Linked DNA regions of Homo sapiens: all the other regions are linked to region 3. A link means that fine-mapping ties the variant in region 3 to the expression of a gene that starts in the linked region. Tissue or cell type: whole blood. Region 3 holds a variant in brackets; each other region holds the start of a gene. All regions are shown on one strand. Distances are from middle to middle. Region 1 holds the start of ZNF692 (zinc finger protein 692). Region 2 holds the start of ZNF672 (zinc finger protein 672). Region 3 has its middle 8.2 kb from the start of PGBD2.

Region 1 (8,156 bases), 39 kb after region 3:
AAGAGCACAGGGAGGCCTTGGTCGGCAGCCACAGCCGGGCGGCAGAGGCTGCACCCGTGAGCGCGAAGGTCCCACCCTATCAACTCAGGAGGGGGCGGGGCTTCTGCCTGTTCCTGGCTCCACTCGCTTCATGGAGCGCTGCAGCCAGCATCACGGCAGTGGCCACCCTAGACGGGCTGCTGCTGCCATCAGCACAACCACAGCGAGGGTGGGCAGCTGCTGCTTCAGCACCAGGAGCAACATGTCGCTCCGCTGCCGGCGTCGCGGGCTCCGCCGCGTCAAGCACCCCTGCAGACGCTGAATTTACCACGGCGAGTCTCTTGGCGGCTGGCTTCCTCCTCCTTCATGTCGTCTGCCCTCCGGCCCGGAGCCAAAGCTAACAGGACCAACCCAGGCAGCTGGGCCAGCCAGGAGCAAGGGCAACCGCATCTCTTGTATACCACCCCACCCTACCTGGGCCACATGGCATCACAGAGCGCCCAGGTCAGCCGCACTAGGGCATGATCAGACTCAGGGTAGAGGCACCACCCTTCAGTTGTCAGGGGCTCAGGGGAAACGGAATTGCACTCCCAGCAATGATGACTAGTTGGAGGATGAAGACACCAGTCACTGAGAGGATGAGGGCTGAGAAAGAGGGAGGTTCATGCAAATACCTGGAGCTGGGCTGGGCTGAGGGTGTCTGTGGGTCTCGTGGAATTTGGGGTACAAAGTCCTGAAGGAGTGTTCCTTTTCCCACTGGGAATACATCTCAGGATTTGAGGGCAGTGGGTTGACTCAACTTCTGTAGCAATTTGGCTCATTCCTCCTTGGATCTGGAGAGTGGAAAGTAGTTTTTCTCTTTGGAGAGAAGATACTAAAAGTTCAGAGGGTACAGCAATATTAGATTTGGCTGTGCCAAAGCAGGAGATAAGAAGAGCGCTATGGTGCCATGCATAGTCCAGGAAAAATAAATGTTATGAAGATAAATATGTCCTCCACATGGACCCTTTTATGTGTATAAAAGAATTGGCAGTTTCAGCAGTCTGTAAACTGTAAAGCTCAACAGTGACAAAAATACAAATAGCTCACATTTAATCTTAGCCTTTGTAATGGGATGCTAAGATGGAATTCAAGGTCTCAGACTGCAATGAGGTCACTAAAGGCAGAGAACCAATGTTTACAGAGAACCCCTCCTTAAAATGTTAGCACTCCCTTGCAGCACTTACAAAGGAAGGGGCTGGTGACTGTTTTTGAGAGAGTTGGCTCATTCCTTACCTAGATGATATAAGAAATTAAAGAGAGGCTGAGAGATTTATTTGGAGACGGTTATTGAAGAGCTGGGCATTGGCAGTAATTTCATTTTATTATTTTAAACAAGATCAAACCAAGAGAACCAAAAATGTTCTTGGGTCTCAAAGTGAGACCCAACATTCTAAGAGTAACCAAGAATTACAAGACCTTTCATTCCCTTGGATGAAACCACAAGGATTTTGCAGATATCTATTAAGGGACCATGAGGAAAGGATAAAGTTTGTTCTCGATGGAGTCCTGCTCTTTTGATGTGAAAGTTACACTTTCATTAATGAGTAAAGTAGCTGGAAAAGTTACACATTCATTAATGAGTAAAGTAGCTGGGACATCTTCCTTCCTACCTTACACTAGTCAGACAAGTATGTTGAGTCACTGATACCACAAATCAAAAGGAATATGCACAGGACACACTGGGCTCATCCTAAGGGTGTTCATGTTTGCACACCATGTCATTTGAGATATTTAGGCTGCAGAGGAGAAGGCTGGGCTAGTCAACAATCATCGTATACCAATAACAAACACACAAACAAGTCCCTGAGATGATTTCAGAAAGTAAGTGCCATGAAGAAGATACAATAGGGCACAGTGAGGTAGAGCATGACTGAGGAAAGGGAGCTTTCTGAATGAGGGATTTTATAGCTGAGTGGGTGATCTTATAGCCGAGATTTACAAGATGAGAAGGGAGCAAACAGATGAACAGCTGGGTGGTGGGCTGGGGGATGGGGTGGGGGCTGAGGGGAGAATTGAGTGCTCCAGAGACAAAAGAACTCCCTCTAGGATACTTGGCACACTTGAGAAATAGCAAAAAGGTGGGAGGACAAAGTGGGAAAAGTTGGGGGATGATGCCAGAGAAGAAGCCAAGGGCCCAATTAAGTAGGTCCTTGAGGCCATGATAAGGATTTTGGATTGCACCACTCACAGATTTTAAGCAAAAGATTTGATCTTTGAGGAAATTTTCCCTGCTTTGTGAGAGTACAAGTTAAAGTAGGAGGCAGATCCATTAGGAAGATGTAGCCACAGACCAGGTGAGAGATGATAGTGGTATGGTAGGCTTAAAAATAGTCCCAGAAAAGATATCTGTGTCCTAATCCCCAAAACTTGTGGAGATTACTTTATTTTATTTTAGATGGAGTCTTGCTCTGTCACTCGGGCTGGTGTGCAGTGGTGCAATTTCGGTTCACTGCAACCTCCTCCTCCTGGGTTCAAGCAATTCTTCTGCCTCAGCCTCCCGAGTAGCTGGGATTATAGGCCCATGCCACCATGCCCAGCTAATTTTTTTTGTATTTTTAGTAGAGACAGGGTTTCACCATGTTGGGCAGGCACATCTCAAACTCCTGACCTCAAGTGATCCACCCGCCTTGGCCTCCCAAAGTGCTGGGATTACAGGCGTGAGCCACCGTGTGCAGCCGATTACTTTATATGGCAAATACTTTACAGAAGAAATTGTCTTAGGATACTGAGATGGAGAGATTATTTGGATTATAAGGATGGACTCTAAATGCATTCACAAGCATCCTTGTAAGAGAGAAGCAGAGGGAGATTTGACACAGAAGGAGGCAATGTGACCTCAGAGACAGAGATTGGAGTGACGTGGCCACAAGTCAGAGAATGCTGGCCACCATTAGAAGCTAGAAGAAGCAAGGAAAGGATTCTCCCCTAGAGCCCTTACAATGGCCTGTGGCCCTGCTGATGCCTTGGCCTCCAGAACTGTGAGAAAATAAATTTGAGTAAAGGGAGCAAGTTTGTGGCTGAAAACAACACACAACACAATTTGTTACAACAATTACAGAAAATTAATACCAGTGGCTTGGAGTAGGGTTTTAGCAGTTGAGAGGGTCAGAAGTGATTGGATTTAAGATAAATTTTTGGAGACAGGACCAACAAGATTTGCTGATGTATATGGTTTAGGTATCATAAAAGGCAAAGAATCAAGGCTGATTCCCTTTTTTCTGAACAAGTGGGTGGATGATGACATAGTTTACTGGCATGGGGGAGGGTACAGGCGTTATTGTTATATGTTTGCCATATTTATGTTGGAGAAAATATCAGCTATCATGTGTCAGCGCTCTCTACATGCCAGGCACTGTCCTACATTCTTTACACGTGTTAGCTCAGTTAACACATGTAAGTCAAGCGGGCAGTAAGATATATGACTGGAGTTGAAAGAGGGCTAGGCTAGGAGCCATCAGTGTATTTAAAGCCATGGAACTAATTAGATCACCCAGGAGAACATATGCAGACGAGAGAAGATCTGGTTCAAGGCCTGAGCCAGGGCACACTTCATCTTTTGGCAGAACAGAGGGAATGGATCCAAAAAAAGGATAGAAGGAGCCAGTGAGGAGGGTGGAAAACCTGGAGCATATGAAGTCACAGAAGTAAAACTGGGGCCCAAAATGTAGAGGGAGCCATAAAGATGAGGAGGACGAGAGCTACATAGTCGCGCTCTTTCTAGGGCAGAGAGGCGGACGGAACTGACAGCTGCTATGTAGCAATATGACCGTCTCAAGTGACCTTGTGAAGCGCCACTGCAGTGGCTGGGTGGGGAGGAAAGCTCCATCAGAGCCATTTGAAGAGAAGAGGATGGGAAGTGAGCGTACACAGAGAATGCAGGCAACTTTTAGGAGGAATTCTGATGGTAATAGAAGTGGGCTGTAGCTGGTGGGACTCTGCGGTCCACAGAGGGCTCTAGCTGGACCCTCTGTGGGTCTTTCAAAGTGACTGATTCTGCATCATGTTTGCGGGTGGCAACTGTGAGGGGGAAATCGAAGGTGAATACAAAACGGGAACAAGTGAAGAGGCAACGTCCCCATACAGGCCGGGTGGGCTGGGGTTGGAGCACAGGAGGCCTGACCCTGTCTCTTCCACTTTCCCTCAAACCTTTGGTCACCAAGCGCAGACGCTCACCACAGAAGCCACCCAACCACAACTGCCGCGGGGCTCCGCGACACGCGCGGGCGACTTGAGTCGGGCAACCACGATTCCCGGCGGGCGTTGCGCGGGGCACCCAGTGCGCAGGCGCACGGCGTCGGCCTCCGACTCGCCCCTCCCTCTGGGGCGCGGGCCTCAGTTCCGGGCTACAGCAGCCGACGCCGAGAGGCACCGTTTCTTCTTAAAAGAGAAACGCTGCGCGCGCGAGGTGGGCCCCTGTCTTCCAGCAGCTCCGGGCCTGCTCGCTAGGCCCGGGAGGCGCAGGCGCAGGCGCAGTGGGGGTGAGGGCGCGTGGGGGCGCACAGGTAAGGCCGGGGTGGGGGTGGGTCGCGACGGGGGCTCTGGGCAGCCTGGGAACTGCCATTGGGATTAGTCCGCTCCACTCACTGTCAGCATTAAGTGGGGGTGCCCAAGACGGGGTGGATGGGGGGCGCCCTCCAGACCTCTGACCACGGCCTCACCGCCACTCGACCCAACTATGAAGAGCGCCCCCAGCTGCACGCCAGGACACGACCTTTCCTTCCCCTAGAAACCAGTAAAGGCCGCTGCCCTATTCAAGATGAAATGTGTGGACCGCCCCCAGCCCAGTTGAAATTTCCCGTGAAAGTCTCTCGCCCCTTCCCCACAGCTCCACTTCAGTGGACTGGAGGGCGCAGGCCTTTGTTCTGACTGCTTCTGTCTGCCTGCCTCCCACCCGACGACACTCACATGGTAGCGCTGAGCTTCAACACCCTGTATCATAGAAGGACGGGGTTTGGCTCCACACCTGCCACTGCTATTGAAATAGTTTAGTCTTGCCCCAGTTCACTGATGAGGAAACTGAGGCCCTAACGGCAGGTGGAGCCGGGTCCCCGACCCCCGAGATCGGCAGGGCGCTGAAGACGTCCCTTCCACCCTCCAGCCTCTGGTGCACATGGCTTCCTCCCCGGCGGTGGACGTGTCCTGCAGGCGGCGGGAGAAGCGGCGGCAGCTGGACGCGCGCCGCAGCAAGTGCCGCATCCGCCTGGGCGGCCACATGGAGCAGTGGTGCCTCCTCAAGGAGCGGCTGGGCTTCTCCCTGCACTCGCAGCTCGCCAAGTTCCTGTTGGACCGGTTAGGGGCCGGGAGAAGGGCTTGGGGGAGGGTACCCAGGCAGCAGCCCCTAGCCTCCTCTCCAGGGCCTGTCCTGCTGCTCTTTTCCACCCTCAGGTTTCTCACTTTACCAGGACGGCCTGTGTGACTTGTGGCCTCCGAGGGTCCTGCTCCCCTCCTCATGGTCTCAGCGAATAGCGGCCCTTAGGGCTGGCCCCTTACATGTGTGAGTGCCCAGGGCTGAGGGTGGCTGGCCACCTGAGTCCTGACCTGCCTCTTCTCCTGCTGGCAGGTACACTTCTTCAGGCTGTGTCCTCTGTGCAGGTAGGTAGGGGATGGCAGGGGGTGAGAGCCAGAGGGAAGAGGGACCACAGGGTGACCCAGAAACACCCTCCTTTCAAAGGGAGCCCTGAGTAAGTTTGGGAAGGGTGGGGTGAGTTGGGGAGCACAGGGTAGTTTGATGGAGGCAACCTCTGGGTGGGGAAGGGAGCAATGTCTCAGGATCTAGTGTGTCTAGGTTCTGAAGAATGATAAATTGGACTGGGGCTGAGGTTGCCCTGGGGTTTGAGGGAACAGGGCTCCCTGGGTATGGCTCTCCAGGGTAAGAGGAGGAGACTTCCCAGTTCAGCCTGACTGCTTCCCCCACCCCTCCAGGTCCTGAGCCTTTGCCTCCAAAAGGTCTGCAGTATCTGGTGCTCTTGTCTCATGCCCACAGCCGAGAGTGCAGCCTGGTGCCCGGGCTTCGGGGGCCTGGCGGCCAAGATGGGGGGCTTGTGTGGGAGTGCTCAGCAGGCCATACCTTCTCCTGGGGACCCTCTTTGAGCCCTACACCTTCAGAGGCACCCAAGCCAGCCTCCCTTCCACATACTACTCGGAGAAGTTGGTGTTCCGAGGCCACGAGTGGGCAGGAGCTTGCAGGTAGGCTGGAAAAAAGCAGAGTTATGGAGAAAAGGGAGGAAAAACGTTTCCCATTTTCTGTAGCTCAGAACCCTGTTCTCTAAAAATGATCCTTTTTCAATGGAAAAACTCTATCTTGACAAATATATCATCAAATACACTGTTGGGCATGAAAAGCAAAACAAAATACAGTGTATGGTATGCTATCATTGGTGAAAAATACAAATAAGGGGAAAGTGAATGTGTGTGTGTGTATGTGTAAGTACTTGCGAATGTATGACATATCTCTGGAAGGCACATAGAAAACCAGGTTGCCTATGGGAAGAAGTAGGCGATGGGGGACAGTATTGGAAAGGAGATTTTTGACTGTATAGTTTTGTGAACTATGTGAATATCATCTCTGAAACAGAACAACTCCTCCTACTCAGATAGCCTCTGCTCCCTCCTCCTCCTTCTTAAAAGTCTCTGCCTGGGTGCAGTGGTTCACACCTATAATCCTAGCACTCTGGGAGGCTGAGGCAAGAGGATTGCTTGAGCCCAGGGGTTTGAGACCAGCCTGGGCAACATAGTGAGACCCCGTCTCTATTTAAAAAAAAAAGAGGAGTCTCCCATCACTTCAGACCTTAGAACTTTATGTGTCCTCATCCCTTGAGTCCAGAGTTCCTTCTCTTTTGACTTTGCCTGTCCCACAGATTTGGAATCTGAGCATGATGAGAGGACTCAAGAGGCCAGGTTGCCCAGGTGAGGATGTGGATAGGAGAGAAAAGGCGGAATTGCATAGGTGGGAGGATGAGGGAGCAGGACCTCAGGCTTGCCTTCTTTGGGCCTGCAGGAGGGTGGGACCCCCACCAGAGACCTTCCCACCTCCAGGAGAGGAAGAGGGTGAGGAAGAAGAGGACAATGATGAGGATGAAGAGGAGATGCTCAGTGATGCCAGCTTATGGACCTACAGCTCCTCCCCAGATGAGCAAGTTGGGGTTGAGGGAGAATGAGCAGAGCAAGAGAGGGAGGCAGCTGGCCTGGCAGTTCATGGCTTTGCAGACTAGAGGGAAGGGCTTGTTAGTGTGGAGGGAAGGGTGGGTTTTGGGGAAGGCAAAAAGAACTAGAGGCTTTGAACTGAGGGGGTGAAAAGGGGTGAAGTCAGGTGCAGGGAGATTGAGGGCTGAAAGCAGATATGAATGGGGAGCCTAGGGTGGGGGTAGGGTTGTTTCAAGTTTGAGATCTTTTCAGTTTAGGGGCTAGGGTCGGGCAGGGGATGGCTGACTGCCCAGAAAGTTAATGCCATCTTCCTCTTTGTTCTCCTTTCAGTAGTGAGCCTGATGCCCCCAGACTACTGCCTTCCCCTGTCACCTGCACACCTAAAGAGGGGGAGACACCACCAGCCCCTGCAGCACTCTCCAGTCCTCTTGCTGTGCCGGCCTTGTCAGCATCCTCATTGAGTTCCAGAGCTCCTCCACCTGCAGAAGTCAGGGTGCAGCCACAGCTCAGCAGGACCCCTCAAGCGGCCCAGCAGACTGAGGCCCTGGCCAGGTAACCTGATGGCTGAGACAGAAAGGGCAGGGGCGTCCTGGGATGTGGCCCTCCCTCGAGGCCCTCTGCTCCCTCTTTGCTGCCCGTAGCACTGGGAGTCAGGCCCAGTCTGCTCCAACCCCGGCCTGGGATGAGGACACTGCACAAATTGGCCCCAAGAGAATTAGGTAGGACTTAGGGAGATGGGGTTCTGGGGAGGGCCGAGAGGAGGGAGGCAGAGAAGGGCAGGCAGGAGTCATGCTGCTCCTTTCCATTCTTCTCCTCAGGAAAGCTGCCAAAAGAGAGCTGATGCCTTGTGACTTCCCTGGCTGTGGAAGGATCTTCTCCAACCGGCAGTATTTGAATGTGAGGGGCACAGGTTGGGGCCTGTGTGGCTGCTGGGGTGGGGGAAAGGGCTAAAAGAAAAACTGAGGAAAAGGATCTTAAGGCATGGGAGGATT
Region 2 (8,180 bases), 60 kb after region 3:
CTCTCTACCCTTTCTCAGAGAGGCCACCCCTGCCTCCACACCTCCCTCGTACTCATTGCTCAGCTTTATTCTCCCTGATCTCGGGTGCTGTGGCCACTCTGGGCTTCAGCGTGGGCTATCCTGTCTCAAAGGGACAGGATAAACTCCCACTATGTATGTTCTCTCCCTGTTCACATCCATACCTTCTCCACACTCCCCAGATTTCACAGGAAAATCTTTGTGAAACCAAAACTTTCAAAAGAATGTATCTGGATCACGATCAGACTTAGGCACTTGGGGTAGGAGCGAACTGTTATTCCTGTTTCCACCAGCTCCTTAGACATGTCCGACTGAATCTGAAGCTGGAAGGAGCATCTATTAGTCAGTGAATGTAACAGGAAGCAGGGATTCCTCTCCACTCTGGACAGACTTCAGCCCTATTCTAGGAGGTGCGGATGGGGAACGGAATTCAGAGCACCAGAATTGCCCCTCCTTGCTTCCTTCCCCCATAAAGAAACAAAATCCAATACTTCAAAAGAAGTTGCTCCTTCCAGCTTCAGATTCAGTCTCTAGCTAAGGAGCTGGTGGAAATAGGAATGACAGTTTGCTCTCAGCCCAAGTGCTCAAGTCTGATCATGAGCCAACACATTCTTTTTATTTTGGAGGCAGAGTCTCACTCTGTCTCCCAGGCTAAAGTGCAGTGGCGCCATCTCAGTGTGATCTCGGCTCACTGCAACCTCTGCCTCCGAGGTTCAAGCGATTCTTGCGCTTCAGCCTCCCAAGCAGCTGGGATTACAGGCTCGAGCTACCACAGCTAATTTTTGTATTTTTAGCAGACACGGGGTTTTGCCATGTTGCCCAGGCTGGTCTTGAACTCCTGGCCTCAGTTGATCCTCCTGCTTCAGCCTCCCAAAGTGCTGGCATTACAGGTGTGAGCCACCGTGCCGAGCCCAAATATATTCTTTTGAAAGTTTTGGTTTCACAAAGATTTTCCTGTGAAATCTGGGAAGTATAGAGAAGGTATGGATGTAGACAAGGAGAGAACATACATAGTGGGAGCTTGCCCTGTCCTTTTGAGACACAGGCAACAGGATGTAGGCAAGGAGAGAACATACATAGTGGGAGCTTGTCCTGTCCTTCTGAGACACAGGCAACAGGATGTAGACAAGGAGAGAACATACATAGTGGGAGCTTGTCCTGTCCTTCTGAGACACAGGCAACATTGAAGCCCAGAGTGGCCAGAGCCCCCCAGATCAGAGAGAAAGGACTATAAGGTCTTTCACACCTTCCCTGGGCCTAGCAAGGACTTGGGCACACAGAAGATACTCAGTGCTTTTTAAAAGTGATGTATTAGTCTGGAATCCAATTTTCCCAAATGTTAGGTCCCTGGAGGAAAGGGCCTGACTACAGTCATCATATCCTCCACAGCACTACCCACTGCATACAAATACTCTGACTACAGTCATCGTACCCTCCACAGCACTACCCACTGCACATACAAGTACTCTGACTACAGTCATCATATCCTCCACAGCACTGCCCACTGCACATACAAATACTCTGACTACAGTCATCGTACCCTGAACGGCACTGCCCACTGCACATACAAATACTATGACTACAGTCATCGTACCCTCCACAGCACTACCCACTGCACATACAAATACTCTGACTACAGTCATCATATCCTCCACAGCACTACCCACTGCATATACAAGTACTCTGACTGCAGTCATCATATCCTCCACAGCACTACCCACTGCACATACAAATACTCTGACTACAGTCATCGTACCCTGAACGGCACTGCCCACTGCACATACAAATACTATGACTACAGTCATCGTACCCTCCATGGCACTACCCACTGCATATACAAATACTCTGACTACAGTCATCATATCCTCCACAGCACTACCCACTGCATATACAAGTACTCTGACTGCAGTCATCATATCCTCCACAGCACTATCCACTGCACATACAAATACTCTGACTACAGTCATCATATCCTCCACAGCACTGTGCACTGCACATACAAATATTCTGCTTTGGTTTACTAGTTGAGCCTGCAACCTGTGTAGCAGAACCAGAGAGGCATCCAAATTCTGGTTCCTCCCATTACTAGCTGTCTGATCTTAGACAGTAGACTTGGAATGTCTGATCCTCCTGGATGGGAAAACTTTAGTAAAGAAAGTTGGCCAGGCACGGTGGCTCACGCCTGTAATCCTAGCACTTTGGGAGGCCGGGGTGGGCAGATCACCTGAGGTCAGGAGTTCGAGACCAGCCTGGCCAATATGGTGAAACCCCGTCTCTACTAAAAATACAAAAAAGTAGCCAGGCATGGTGGCACGCGCCTGTAGTATTGGCTAACTCGGGAGGCTGAAGCAGGAGAATCGCTTGAACCCGAGAAGCAGAGGTTGCAGTGAGCCGAGATAGTGCCACTGTACTCCAGCCTGGGCGACAGAGTGAGACTCCATCTCAAAAAAATAAATTAAAAAAAGCTATTATTATAGTGTTTCATATGGAAAGGTCAAAATATTGCTAAATCTTGCCGGGCATGGTGGCTCACGTCTGTAATCCCAGCACTTTGGGAGGCCAAGGCGGGCGGATCACTTGAGGTCAGGAGCTCGAGACCAGCCTGGCCAACACAGTGAAACCCTGTCTCTACGAAAAATACAAAAATCAGCCAGGTGTGGTGGCGCCCGTCTGTAGTCTCAGCTACTGGGAAGGGTGAGGTGGGAGGATCACTTGAGGCCAGGAGGCGGAGGTTGCAGCGAGCCGAGATCGCGCCACTGTACTCCAGCCTGGACGACAGAGCAAGACTCCGTCTCAAAAAAAAAAAAAAAAAAAAAAAATTGCTAACACTGAGAATTGCGGTTGCCCGGTGCTTAGGATTTACTCTGCCTAGGACAGTCCTTCTTGTTGTTGTTGTTTGTTTGTTTTTTGAGACAGGGTCTTGCTGTCACCCAGCTTGGAATGCAGTGATTTGATCACTGTCTCACTGCAGCCTCGCCCTCCTGGACTCAAGCAACCCTCCAGCCTCAGCCTCCTGCGGAGCTGGGACTATGAGCAGGTGCTACCACACCCGGCTAATTATTATTATCATTATTTTTTTTGTAGAGACGAGGGTTCTCACCATGTTGCCCAGGCTGGTCTTGAACTCCCGAGCTCAAGAGAGCCTCCCACTTTGGCCTCCCAAAGTGCTAGGATAACAGGCATGAGCCACTGTGCCCGGCCCTGGGCAGTTCTTAAGAGCGACTCTGAGTAAGGGGCTTAACTCCTGTCTCCACTCCAGGCATCCTAAACGGTCTGCAGCCGTTTTCAGTCCTTCCCCCTCAACCCCTAAGAATCCCTCACATGATTAGAACAGCACAGCATGGGCCTTCCATAGCTCCACTTGCGCGAACTGTGGGCTCCAAGATGAAAGAAGGGAAGCTGGCTACTCATCTGGGGACTTGGTGCCTGGTACTTAAGAGCGAAGCACAACTATTCGCCGAATGCGGAACACGGCACCTGAACAGGTCGCTTTCCGTGGCCCACAGCAGCGCAGCCAATCCTGGGGCGCCTCAGTCGGCGCGCGTCACAAGTTGCTGGGCAAACTTTCTTTGAGCGAGCCCCTTCCCAACCCCGAGCCTACCCTAGCCCCTTGCCCGTGGCGCCAGCCGACTTGGAGGGCGAGACCGGGCACCAAAAACGTAGTGGGGAACGTTTAACGCTGCCAGAACCCGGTGGCGGCCGTTGCCCCCTTAAGTCGGCTCAGCCTGGCGACGTTTGTCGTGGTGACGCCAGCCCCGAAAAGGTCACCCGAGGCGGACCAGCGAGGACAGGCGGAGGGGAAGGCCTGGGAGGAGCAGGCCGCGCGGACGTGTCCGGCCAATCGCTCGCCCCGCAGTATCCCCGCGTCACTCGCAGCCCGGGCGGCGCTCCCGACCGCCGCAGACACCAGTCGCCCGAGGCAGATGGGAGAAGACTAGCCACAGCTGAGGACTGCTGCCCCGAGCCACCCTTGCCCTCCCCTGCCCTTCAGTCCCCTCACCGGTCGCCGACTGCCTCCTCAGACACCGCGCGGTTCCCACTCAGCCGGCTGCCGACCCCCGCCTCCCGGACTGCGGGACTGGGGCGGGGGAGCGAGGAAGGGGCTAACGGCGCGCGCGGCCTCCGAGTGGGGGGAGCGGGGAGGCGCCCGAGCGTCCGGCCCCTCGGGATGGGGAGGTCACGCTCCTGTCCCTCTCGCCCGCGTCGGCTAGTGGTCAGTCTGGCGCGGGCAGTGTCACCGGTTGCTGGGAAGACTGGGAGGCCAGCGAGCAGCGTACCAACCACTCAGCCTCTCCGGCCCCAGCTGGAGCCGGGAAGCAGGCGGGGCTAAAAGAGAAAGCCTGCGGGGGGACTCCACTCCCGCCTCCCGCGCGGGCCAAGGCCCCGCCCTCTCTTCTGGCTTAACCAATTCCTGCCTCCCGCTTTGTCTGTTGGCCCACCCCTGGGCCTCGTCCCGCCCAATCAGAGGAAAGGGCGCCGATCCCTGCGCGCGCCTCAGCCCCCAGCCGCGGAGTCCCGGGAGCTAGGCGGTCCACCGTCTAGTCTTCCAGCAGCTCTTCCCGCGGCCGCTGGCGGGACACAGACAGGTGTACCCTTCGGTGCTTCCGGCGCGGTAGCCGGTGCCCGGCGCGGACGGGGCCGCGGCAGCCATCCCCGTAGTTAAGTTAGCGCCTTCTTATTAAGTGAGGCCAGACTGGATAGCTATTATCTCTCAACCCTCACCACAACCCTGCCAGGGGAAATATGAGCATTTATCCTGTATTTTAGGTAAGGACCCCACAAGTTAATGATACGCCCAAAGTCGCAATGCCAGGGATAGGGGTTACTCCTGGTCGGCTTGCCAGCTGCCTCTCCATGAGCTTCCTGGTTGAACTGCCTGTCCAAATGTTGACCCTAATGTCTTCTACTAGGAAATGCTACTAGTATTCCTTTCCGGAAATGCATTTTGGGAACCTGGCCATCCTTTAGTGTGCCTATATCATCAGAACAGACGCCCAGGGATGGCCCTCAAGGTCCTTTACTGCTGTAATCTTCCTTTGGAGGTCACTTAGTACCACTCTTCTGAGCTCTGCTCAGGGGGTCCCCTAATTAGTGTACTTCGACCTGCCATGCTTGGCCTGGAAAACTCTTACCCTCTTCTCTGTTTTAATTTGTAAAACCTTAGTCAAATGCCATCTCCATAAACCTATGCTAGAATGCCCCTCTCTGTCCTCAGTCCTGGGGACATATCTATGCTGCAGCGCAACCTCCCGCATGTTGATACTGTTGTTATAGTCAGATGAATACTGTTCCCCCATAGCTTAAGGGACAGGCCTTGTCCTACTCATGAACAATTGATCCCTTGAAGCATGAGCAGAGGGCCAGCACGCCACAGATGATCAATGAGTGTTTGCTGACCCGCATATGACAACACGGATTAAGGAAGACAAATCTGGTAGCAGCAGGCAAGAAAGCTGAAAAGCAAGACACAGGATGCAGGTCTGGAGTGATCAGGGCCTGAACCAGGAAGGGATAACATTGAGAGAGACATGGAAAATGCGCTTGAAGTATATATATTTTTATTGTAAAGAATCATACACAGATAAGGTAGTATTATATAGAGAATGATTAGTTGAGGATATTTCCAGAGTCTTTAAGCCAGAGAAATGTACTAATTTAGACATTTCTGGACTCATTGCTCAGTACTGATGTCATGTTTTTAAGGACACTGACACACTTGGCTAATCCCAGAGACATGAAGAGGATGGTGACTAGGGTGGTCACATAATTAAAGGGGCTGGGGATATTTAACCTAGAAAGAGAAACATTTTTTGTGCACATAATGACTGTACACAAATTCTAACAAACTTTCATGTGAAAGAGGACTGGATTAGATGACTTTCTTCTGTGTAGCTTTGGAGGGAAAAACTCAAACAATGGGGGGAAAGAACAGGAAGCTGGATTTAGGTTTCCTATGTTATGGAAGTCATCACAGTGGGGGATGATAATTGTAACAGGAAGATGGAGGGTAGTGAAAGAAAGTTCAAGGATGAAGTTATGTGTATATTTGTCAATTAAAAATATCACATCCAAATGGTTTTATTTCTCTACACATCTACATCAATAAATGACAACTCTTAATGTGGTTCTGTAAATACTCAAAATGTTTATGGAAGGTCTACTATATGCCAGGTAGTATTCTAGACGTTGGAGATAACAGCTGTGAACCTACCAGATGAATCTCCCCAAAGTTCTGATTGTATCACATTCCTGCTCAGTAATAGTCAAAAAAGTCTGTACAATCACCAAATGAAGTTTACTCTTCTGGTGTAATATTCAAGACCCTCTTTCACCTATTCCAACCTGTCTTTCCAGTCTGTTCTCTTAAACTCTCCATTAAACTGGATCACTCCCCACCTACCTTCTACGTTTCTCTCAGCTTGGCATACACTTCTCCTGTTCCTTCACTTTTTCTTGTCTACCAAAGTCCTACTTATCCTTCAGACTTCTGTTCAAACACCAACCCACTCTCAAAGTGAAAACTATCTTCTTTCTGAAGACCACTAGTATTGTTCACCCAGAAATTCCCTAAGTATTTATTATCTTTGCAAGCCACAAGATGCATAAGACACTTACTCTGTTATTTACATCCTTTACCATGTACTTCAAGATAGAGTGTTGCTCTGTCACGCAGGCTGGAGTGCAGTGGCATGATCTCGGCCCACTGAAGCCGCTTCCCAGGTTCAAGTGATTCTTGTGTGTCAGCATCCCAAAGAGCTGGGACTACAGGCACGCACCAACATGCCTGGCTAATTTTTGTAATTTTAGTACACATGGGGTTTCACCATGTTGCTCAGGCTGGTCTTGAACTCCTGGCCTCAAGTGATCTGCTGTGTTCGGCCTCCAAAAGTGCTAGGATTACAGGCAAGAGCCAACATGCCTGGCCACCATGTACTTTAGAATAATGTGCATACTTTATTTCTCCTACTAAATTATAAGCTTGAGGGCAGAGTCAGAGGCTGGATGCACATTTCTGAACACCTGCTATGTGCAAAGAAATGGGCTGAGTATCGGAGACAAAATGGAGACTGAGTCCTTTGAGGACATGCTGAGGGATGGCAACCGCTCCCCCCGCCCACAGACCTTGCCATCCCATCATGTGCAAAGTACAAAGTGGTATAAAGGTACAACAGGAAGAATAGGGTAATTCTGCAATAGGTCATCAGTAAACTTCATTGGCTCAGCATGTAGCCAAGATTTTGTATAGGGATCTGTGGATGGAGGTGACAATGATTTTCACCTCCCACCACACACCCCCAGTGGCAGATTTCTGCAATATAAGTGATGGGACTGGGTCAGGCAGAGGGATTAGATGAACAGGAAGGGAGTGAGCATGCACTCAATCCAGACTGAGTGAGTGGAGGAGGCTCAGAATCCTGTGGAAGATGCTGAGTGGGGTGGGACAGGAATTCAAGAAGGTAGAGTGGGTGAAGGTATTGGAAGAGGAAATGCAAATAAGTTTTGGGCTAAATCAAGGAATTCCTCCTTTTCAGAAGCTTTTATTGAGGACCCACTGAGTCTGCACCTGGCTGGGTAATAGAAATATAGAGATGAATAAATTATGTTCCTTTACAGTATAGAGTCTATCCCATACCCAAGGGTGTAGGCCTCCCTCAGTGAGAAGAGGAGGAGCCATGGTGTATCAGGATTTGTAAAGACTAGGAAGTTAGAGGCGAATACGCGAAGCCGTGGGCGTGGATGACATTTCTAAGAGGCTATAGGTGGATTAGTAGGGGCTGAAGGCACCATACCTAGAGCACCAGCCTCCAAAAGGAAGCAGCTGCAGAAGGGGAAGCCAGTAAAGGCTTTGGGGAGGAAGAAGGTCAGGACACGGTCAGGTTTTAGATTCCCATGTGAGGAAGTGGTGGACAATGTCCAATGCTGAAGTAAGTCAAACAGCATCAAGGTGGTTATGTTTGGCTAGAGGGCACTGTCAGTGGTTTATGAAGTGAGACAGAAAGGAAGGGAAGTAAAAGTTATAGGCATGCAGAGCAGGCACATAGTACATGGCTTACGTTGCTGTTGGGGGCAACTGAAAGGCAAGTAAGTAGGGCTAAGGTATAGACCACTATTTCAAATCCCTGTCTGAAATGTGAGCCCAGTGGATATTCACAATGCCAAAA
Region 3 (8,180 bases):
CAGCCTCCCAAGTAGCTAGGACTACAGGTGTGTGCCACCATGCCTGGCTATTTTTTGTAATGTTAGTAGAGATGGGGTTTCACCATGTTGGCCAGGCTGGTCATGAACTCCTAGTCTCAAGTGATCCGCTTGCCTTGGCCTCTGAAAATGCTGGGACCACAGGCATGAACCATTTCGTCCAGCCTTCATTATAGTTTTGATTTGCATTTCTCTAATGATCAATGATGTTTTTAATGGGGCTGTTTGTTTTTGTTCTTGTAAATTTGTTTTTATTCCTTGTAGACTCTGGATATCAGACCTTTGTCAAATGAATAGATTGCAAAATTTTTCTCCCATTCTGGAGGTTGTCTGTTCACTCTGATGATGGTTTGTGGTTTTTTTGCTTTGTTTTGTTTTTGCTGTGCAGAAGCTTTTTAGTTTAATTAGATCCCATTTGTCAGTTTTCACTTCTGTTGCAATGGCTTTTGGCGTTTTTGTGATAAAGGTTTTGCCCGTGTCTATGTCCTGAATGGTATTGCCTAGATTTTCTTCTGGGTTTTTATAGTTTTGGATTTTACATTTAAGCCTTTAATCCATCTTGAGTTATTTTTTGTATAAAGTGTAAGGATGGGGTCCAGTTTCAGTTTTCTGCATATGGCTAGCCAGTTTTCCCAGTACCATTTGTTAAATAGAGAATTATTTCTTCATTGCTTGTTTTTGTCAGGTTTATCAAAGATCAGATAGTTGTAGGTGTGCAGTCTTATTTCTGAGTTCTCTAGTCTGTTCCATTGATCTATGTGTCATTTTTGTACCAGTACCATGCTGTCTTGGTTACCATAGCCTTCTTATATAGTTTGAAGTCGGGTACCCTGATGCCTCCAGCTTTGCTCTTGTTGCTTTGGATTGTCTTGGCTATTAGGACTTTTTTTTGGTTCCATATGAAATTTAAAATATATTTTTTTATTTCTGTGAAAAATGTCCATAGCAATTTAATAGGAATAGCATTGAATCTATAAATTAGTTTGGGCAATATGGCCATTTTCACAATATTGATTCTTCCTATCCCTGAGCATGGAATGTTTTCCCATTTGTTTGTGTCCTCTCTGATTTCCTTGAGCAGTGGTTTGTAGCTCTCCTTGAAGAGGTCCTTCACTTCCCCTGTTAGCTTTATTCCTAGGTATTTTATTTTGTTTGTGGGCATTGCGAATGGGAGTTCATTCATGGTTTGGCTCTCTGCTTGTCTGTTCTTGGTACATAGGAATGCTTGTGATTTTCATACACTGACTTTGTATCCTGAGACTTTGCTAAAGTTCCTTATGAGCTTAACAAGCTTTTGGGCTGACCCAATGGGGTTTTCTAGATATATGATCATGTCACCTGCAAACAAAGATAATTTAACTTCCTCTCTTCTACTTGAATAACCTTTCTTTCTTTCTCTTGTCTGACTGCCCTGGCCAAAACTTCCAATACCATGTTGAATAGGAATAGTGAGAGAGGACATCCTTGTCTTGTGCCAGTTTTTAAAAAGATTCCTTCCACCTTTTGACCATTAAGTATGCTATTGACTGTGGGTTTGTCATCTATGGCTCTTATTATTTTGAGGTATTTTCTTCAATACTTAGTTTATTGAGAGTTTTTAACATGAAGGATGTTGGATTTTATCAAAGATCTTTTATGCTTCTATTGCGACAACCATGTGGTTTTTGTCTTTAGTTCTGTTTATGTGATGAATTACATACATTGATTTGTATATGTTGAACCAACCTTGCATCCTGGGGATGAAGACAACTTGATCATGGTGGATAAGCTTTTTGATGTGATGCTGGATTCAGCTTGCCAGTATTTTATTGAGTATTTTTTGGATTGATGTTCATCAGGGATACTGGCCTGATTTCTGTTTTTTTGTTGTTGTTGTATTTCTGCCAGGTCTTGGTATCAGGATGATGCTTTCCTCATAAAATGAATTAGGGAGGAGTCCCTCCTTTTCAATTGTTTGAAATAGTGTCAGAAGAAATGTTACCAGCTCCTCTTTACACCTCTGGTAGAATTAAGCTATAATCCTTCTGATCCTGGGCTTTTTTTTTTTTTTTTTTTGGTAGGCTATTTATTACTGCCTCAATTTCAGAACTCATTATTGGTCTATTCAGGGACTCAACTTCTTCCTGGTTCAGTCTTGGGAGGGTGTATATATCCAGCAATTTATCCATTTCTTCTAGATTTTGTAGTTTATTTGCATAGAGGTGTTTGTAGTATTTTCTGATGGTTGTTCATATTTCCATTGGCGTCAGTGGTGATATCCCCTTTATTGTTTCTAATTATATCTATTTGATTCTTCTCCTTCTTTTCTGTATTAGTGTAGCTAGTAGTCTATCTATTTTACTTTTTTTTTTTTTTCCCAAAAAAAACAGCTCCTGAATTTGCTGATTTTTTTAAGGGTTTTTGATGTCTCTATCACCTTTATTTCTACTCTGATCTTGGTTATTTCTTGTCTTCTGCTAGCTTTGGGGATAGTTTTTTATTTGTGATGTTAGGGTATTGACTTGAGCTCTTTCTGGCTTTTTGATGTGGGCATTTAGTACTATAAATTTTCCTCTTAACACTGCTTTCGCTGCATTCCAGAGATTCTGGTGTGTTGTCTCTTTGTTCTCATTGGCTTCAAAGAACTTCTTGATTTCTGCCTTATTATTTACCCAGGAGTCATTCAGGATCAGGTTTTTCAATTTCTACGTAGTGGTGTGGTTTTGAGTGAGTTTCTTAATCTTGAATTCTAATTTGATTGCACTGTGTTCTGAGAAACTGTTATGATTTCAGTTTTTTGCATTTGCTGAGGAGTGTTTTACTTCAGATTACATGTTCAACTATAGTAAGTTCTTTGTGGTGATGAGAAGAATGTATATTCTGTTGAATTTGGGTGGAGAGTTTTGTAGATATCTATAAGATCCACTTGATTCAGATCTGAGTTCAGGTCCTGAATATTTTTGTTAATTTTCTGTCTCTATAATCTGTCTAATATTGTCAGTGGGGTATTAAAGTCTCCCACTGTTATTGTAGGGGAGTCTAAGTTTCTCTGTAACTCTCTAAGAACTTGTTTTAAGAATGTGGGTGCCCCAGTATTGGGTGCATATATATTTAGGATAGTTAACTCCTCTTGTTTAATTGAACCCTTTACCATTATGTAATGCCCTTCTTTGTGTTTTTAATCTCTGTTGGTTTAAAGTCTGTTTTGTCAGAAACTACAAAAAAACCCTGCTTTTTTCTGTTTTCCATTTGCTTGGTAAATTTTCATCCATCCCTTTATTTTGAGCCTATTTGTGTCTCTGCATGTGAGATGGGTCTGTTGAATATAGCATACTGATGGGTCTTGACTCTATCCAGTTTGCCATTTTTTGTCCTTTAATTGGAGCATTTAGCCCATTTACATTTAAGGTTAATGTTTTTCTTTGTGAATTTGTTCCCGTCATCATGATGCTAGCTGGTTATTTTGTAGATTTGTTTATGTAGTTGCTTCATAGTGTTGTTGGTCTGTGTACTTCAGTGTGTTTTTGTAGTGGCTGGTAACGGTTTTTCCTTTCCATATTTAGTGCTTCCTTCAGGAGCTCCTGCCAGGCAGGCCTGGTGGTGATGAATTCCCTCAGCATTTGCTCATCTGAAAAGGGTCTTATTTCTTTTTTGCTTATAAAGCTTAGTGTGGCTGGATATGAAATTCTGGGTTTGAAATTCTTTTCTTTAAAAATGTTGAGCCAGGTGCGGTGGCTCACGCCTGTAATCCCAGCACTTTGGGAGGCCGAGGTGGGCGGATCATGAGGTCAGGAGAGCAAAGGTGGCAGCCTGCTCCTTCCCAGAGGAACATTGACCTGATTCAAGCCCAAATGCTGCTGGAGGTGTCTGGAGACCCCTGTTGGGAGGTCTCATTCAGTCAGGAGGGATAGGATTGGGGGGACCTGCTTGAAGAAGTAGTCTGGCTGCCCCTTGGTGGAGTTGGTACACTGTTGGGGAGAACCCCTGTCATCTGGACTGCCCAGACTCTCCAAAGCCAGCAGGCGGGAAAGGCTGTCGGCTGAACTGCAGAGACCATGGCTGCCCCTCCCCCAAGGGGCTGCATCCCAGGGAGATCAGAGTTCTGTCCATTAAACCCTGGCTGGAGTTGCTGAAATTCCCACAGGGAGGCCCCACCCAGTGAGGAGGAATGGGTCGGGGTCCCATGTAAAGAAGCAATCTGGCCACAACCTGCCGTAGCTGCTGAGCTCCACTGTGGGGAATCCCTCCCGGTCCAAACCACCCAGTCTCCCCAGCATTAGGAGGGCAAAATAGCCAACTGGAGCTGCAGAGATGGCAGCTGCCCCTTTCCCCAGGAACTCGGTCATCTCAGGCAGTCTCCAGTCGCTGCCACTGGCCCATGGGGATTTCTAAGCCAGTGGGTCTTAGCTGGTAAGGTTTTGTGGGAGTGGAGCCCACTGAAAGATGCCCCTTGGGTTCCTGGCTTCAGCCCCCTTCCTACAGGAACAGACAGATCTCCTGCCTCACAGGAATTTTCAAGCTTCAGCATGCAAAAACTCCTGCATCTCTGTGCCTTCCCGAGCAGCTGCTGACTGGAGTGGCCACCAGGTCTGCACAGCTCTGTGCCTGGGACCCAAGGCCCTGGTGGCATAGGCTCAAGAAGGAATCTCCTTGTTTGAAATGCTTG[C/T]TCCCCAGTGCCGTAAAGAAATAGCACTTGAACATACATTTAATTTACTCAGCAAGGCCATTTTTACTTACTGCAGAAAAGGTATGCTTGCCAGCAGTTTTGCCATGAGAGTACACCAAACAAAGAAGACAGGGTCATTTATAACCTGACGCATCCACCCTACTGCTGTGTCTGGTTTCCATCGGCTGGCACGGGACCTCACATCCTGTATTTGTTCCGATCGGCTAGCAACTTAGAACTTTCTTAAAGAGGCAAAGGTAGAGGGGAACAAAGGAAGGAGGAAGTAACTGGTGGAATGCTGAGAAAGGTAAAAAGCACCTTCACATAAGGAAGAGGAACAGGCTATCACCTAATGCTTGCTTGGACCAGCATAAGCATGCTAGGGCAAATATTTAGGCTAAATTGTGACATAAAGTACTTTGATTTCTTTACCACGGCTAGCAGATATTTAAGAATGTTAGCACAGGTCTTTGAATAAATTTTGCTTCTAAGAGAAGTTACTATTTATTCCTAATTAAATGGGGAGGAAAATCTTTGAAGAGGAACCTCTACTTTACTTTTTACATCCTGATCTATGGGTTGCAAAGATCCATGGGAAAAGTGTGATTTCCTGGGTGGGGTAGTGCAATCCCTCACGGCCTCCCTGGCCTGGGAGCGGGCGATCCCCTTGCTCCATGCAGCTCCCAGGTGGGCTGTCGCCCCACCTTGCTTTTCCTTGCTCTCCATGGGTCACTGCCTAGCCAGCATCCAATATCAACTGGATATCTCAGTTGAAGGTATAGAATGCACTTACCATTTTCATTCTTCTTGGTGAGCGCTGAAGACTGCAGCTGCTTCTAATCAGTAATTTTGTCCCTTCCCTCTAAAAGTTTTTTGTAGGAGGGAGGGGCCAAGATGGCCAATTAGAAGCAGCTGGAGCTATAGGTGTGCTGCTACTCAGGAGGCTGAGGCAGGAAGATTGCTTGAGCCCAGGAGCTTGAGGCTGCCGTGAGCTGTGATCGTGCCACTGCACTCCAACCTAGGTGACAGAGCAAGACCCCATCTCTAAAAGAAAAAGAATATCCATAAGGAATGATAAACGTATGCATGATTGTGAGAGTTAGAGTTTTCCAGATAAAGAGAACCAAGAGAATATATATATATATGTATATATGAAAAGATTTATGAGAAATTGGCTTATGGATTATGGAGACTAAGAGGTTTCAAAATCTGCTGTCTGCAAGCTGAAGACCCAGGAAAGCCAGTGTTGTAATTCCAATTTGAGTCAACGGCCTGAGAACCAGGGAGCCTATTTAAAACTGCATAAAACTGCAAGCCGTACATTTGCAGCAACTTGGATGGAGTTGAAGACCATTATTCTAAGTGAAGTAACTCAGGAATGGAAAATCAAATATTGTATGCTCTCACTTATAAGGGAGCTAAGCTATGAGGATGCAAAGGCATAAGAATGATATAATAGACTTCTGGGACTCGGGGCGGGGGAAGGGTCGGAGGGGCGTGATGGATAAAAGACTATACAGTGGGCCGGGTGCAGTAGCTCATGCCTGTAATCCCAGCACTTTGGGAGGCCGAGGTGAGCGGATCACAAGGTCAAGCGATCAAGACCATCCTGGCCAACATGGTGAAACCCTGTCTCTACTAAAAATACAAAAATTAGCTGGGCGTGGTGGCACGTGCCTGTAGTCCCAGCTGCTTGGGAGGCTGAGGCAAGAGAATCGCTTGAACCTGGGAGGCGGAAGTTGCAGTGAGCCAAGATCACGCCACTGCACTCCAGCCTGGTGACAGAGCAAGGTTCTGTCTAAAAACAAAACAAAACAAAAAAATCTATACATTGGGTACAGTGTACACTGCTCAGGTACCAAAATCTTAGTGCACCAAAATCTCAGAAATCCCACTAAAGAACTTATCCACGTAACCAAGAACCACCTGTTTCCTCCAAAATAATGAAGAAAAAAAAATACCCTGCAAGCCTTAAATATCATTAAGATATTTAATTCCTTAAATGTCTAACAGCACCAGACACGAGGATGATTATTGGATTGGGGAACAGAACAGGAGCCAATTCTTAAAGGTAGTCTTGCTTCCTTGAGCAGCAGAACCCTTGCTACTCAGACCTTCTTCCTCCTCTTTGTCCTTCCTCCTCTTTGTGTGCCAGGTTGGGCTGGCAGTATAGCCACAAATATGGGGGCTACTCACCACCAAAGAGGAGGCCTAGCACTCTGTGGGCAGGACTGGTCCCTGTGAAATCAGAGGAAAACCAGACTGTGGCCACAGTCACACTCCTCTGGCTTCTTTCTCTTTGTTAAGTTCCCAAACATTGGCCTGTTGTTGGTTGACCCAAAGACCACTCTCAGGTTCAATGACTGGCTGGAAGGACTTACAGAACTCAGAAAAGTTGTTATAGGCTGGGTGTGATGGCTCAAGCCTATAATTCCAACACTTTGGGAGGCTGAGTTGGGAGGATAGCTTGAGACTAGAAGTTAGAGACCAGCCTGGACAACATAGCAAGATCCCATCTCTAAAAAAATTAACAACAACAACAAAATAGCCAGATGCAGGCCATACACACCTGGAGTCCCAACTACTCAGGAGGCTGAGGCAGGAGGATCACATGAGCACAGGAGTTTGAGGTTGCAGTGAGCTATGATTGTGTCATTGCACTCCAGCCAGTGACAATCAGAGCGAGACCTCATCTAAGAAAGAAGAAAGAAAGAGAGAGAGAGAAAAGGAAGGAAGGAGAAGAGGAAGGGGAAGGGGAAGGAAGGAAAGGAAAGCAAGCAAGCAAGCAAGCAAGCAAGAAAGAAAGGAGGGAGGGAGGGAGGGAGGGAAGAAAGGGAAAAAGAAGAAAAAAGAAAATGTGTATATTCATTACAGTGAGTTTTGACTTATTAAAGTGAAAGAATACAGGTTAAAATCAGCAAAGGTACCCATGCATACATTGTCAGCTGATGTTTAACAAGAGTGCCATGAATACACAATAGGAAAATGATAGTCTCTTCAATAAATAGGGAAAATTGTATATCCACATCCAAAAGCATGTAATCGGAGTCTTGTCTTACACCATACACAAAAATTAACTCAAAATGGATTAACCACTAAAACGTAAGTTATATAACCCTAAAAATCCTAGAAGAAAACATAGAAGTAAAGCTCCTTGACTTTTCTAGGTCCAGGCAATGATTTCATATATCTGACAGCAAAAAGACAGGCAAAAAAAACCACAAAAAAAACCCAAAAATAGACAAGTGGGACTATATCAAACTAAAAAGTTTCAGCATTACAAAGGAAACAACCCATAAAATAAAAAGACAACCCAAAGAATGAGAGAAAATATTTTCAAAGAACATATCTGATGATGGGTTAATTTCCAACATAAGGAACTCCTATAAATAGCAAAAACAAAAATAACCTGATATAAAAATGAGCAAAGGACCTGAGTACACACATTTCTCCAAAGACCTACAAATGGCCAGGGCCAGCAGACATATAAAAAGATGCTCAACATCACTAATCATCA

Evidence for each region. PIP is the estimated chance that this variant, and not a neighbour inherited with it, causes the effect.
Region 1: it holds the start of ZNF692, and the variant in region 3 is fine-mapped to the expression of ZNF692 in whole blood (TOPMed, PIP above 0.99).
Region 2: it holds the start of ZNF672, and the variant in region 3 is fine-mapped to the expression of ZNF672 in whole blood (TOPMed, PIP above 0.99).

What each region holds. Positions count from the first base shown.
Region 1 is chr1:248,855,285-248,863,440 of GRCh38, reverse strand. ZNF692 (zinc finger protein 692) reads left to right here and starts at 4,356. Exons shown (of 12, transcript NM_017865.4): 1 at 4,356-4,523; 2 at 5,120-5,310; 3 at 5,582-5,613; 4 at 5,944-6,207; 5 at 6,879-6,927; 6 at 7,019-7,153; 7 at 7,495-7,716; 8 at 7,806-7,883; 9 at 7,983-8,061. The coding sequence starts at 5,132. It overlaps ZNF692-DT (ZNF692 divergent transcript), which reads right to left and starts at 4,277. Exons shown (of 3, transcript NR_186117.1): 1 at 4,195-4,277; 2 at 654-812. RefSeq lists enhancers at 281-540, 3,872-4,021, 4,822-4,871, 5,472-5,551 and a silencer at 4,162-4,661.
Region 2 is chr1:248,834,390-248,842,569 of GRCh38, reverse strand. ZNF672 (zinc finger protein 672) reads right to left here and starts at 4,346. Exons shown (of 4, transcript NM_024836.3): 1 at 4,019-4,346. RefSeq lists enhancers at 3,024-3,103, 3,444-3,713, 3,411-3,910, 3,911-4,412 and a silencer at 4,004-4,403.
Region 3 is chr1:248,893,991-248,902,170 of GRCh38, reverse strand. It overlaps a transcript of PGBD2 not described here. Among named protein-coding and RNA genes, the nearest start is that of PGBD2, 8.2 kb to the left of the region's middle. RefSeq lists a silencer at 6,117-6,299. The variant C/T (reference allele first, on the strand shown) is at 4,664.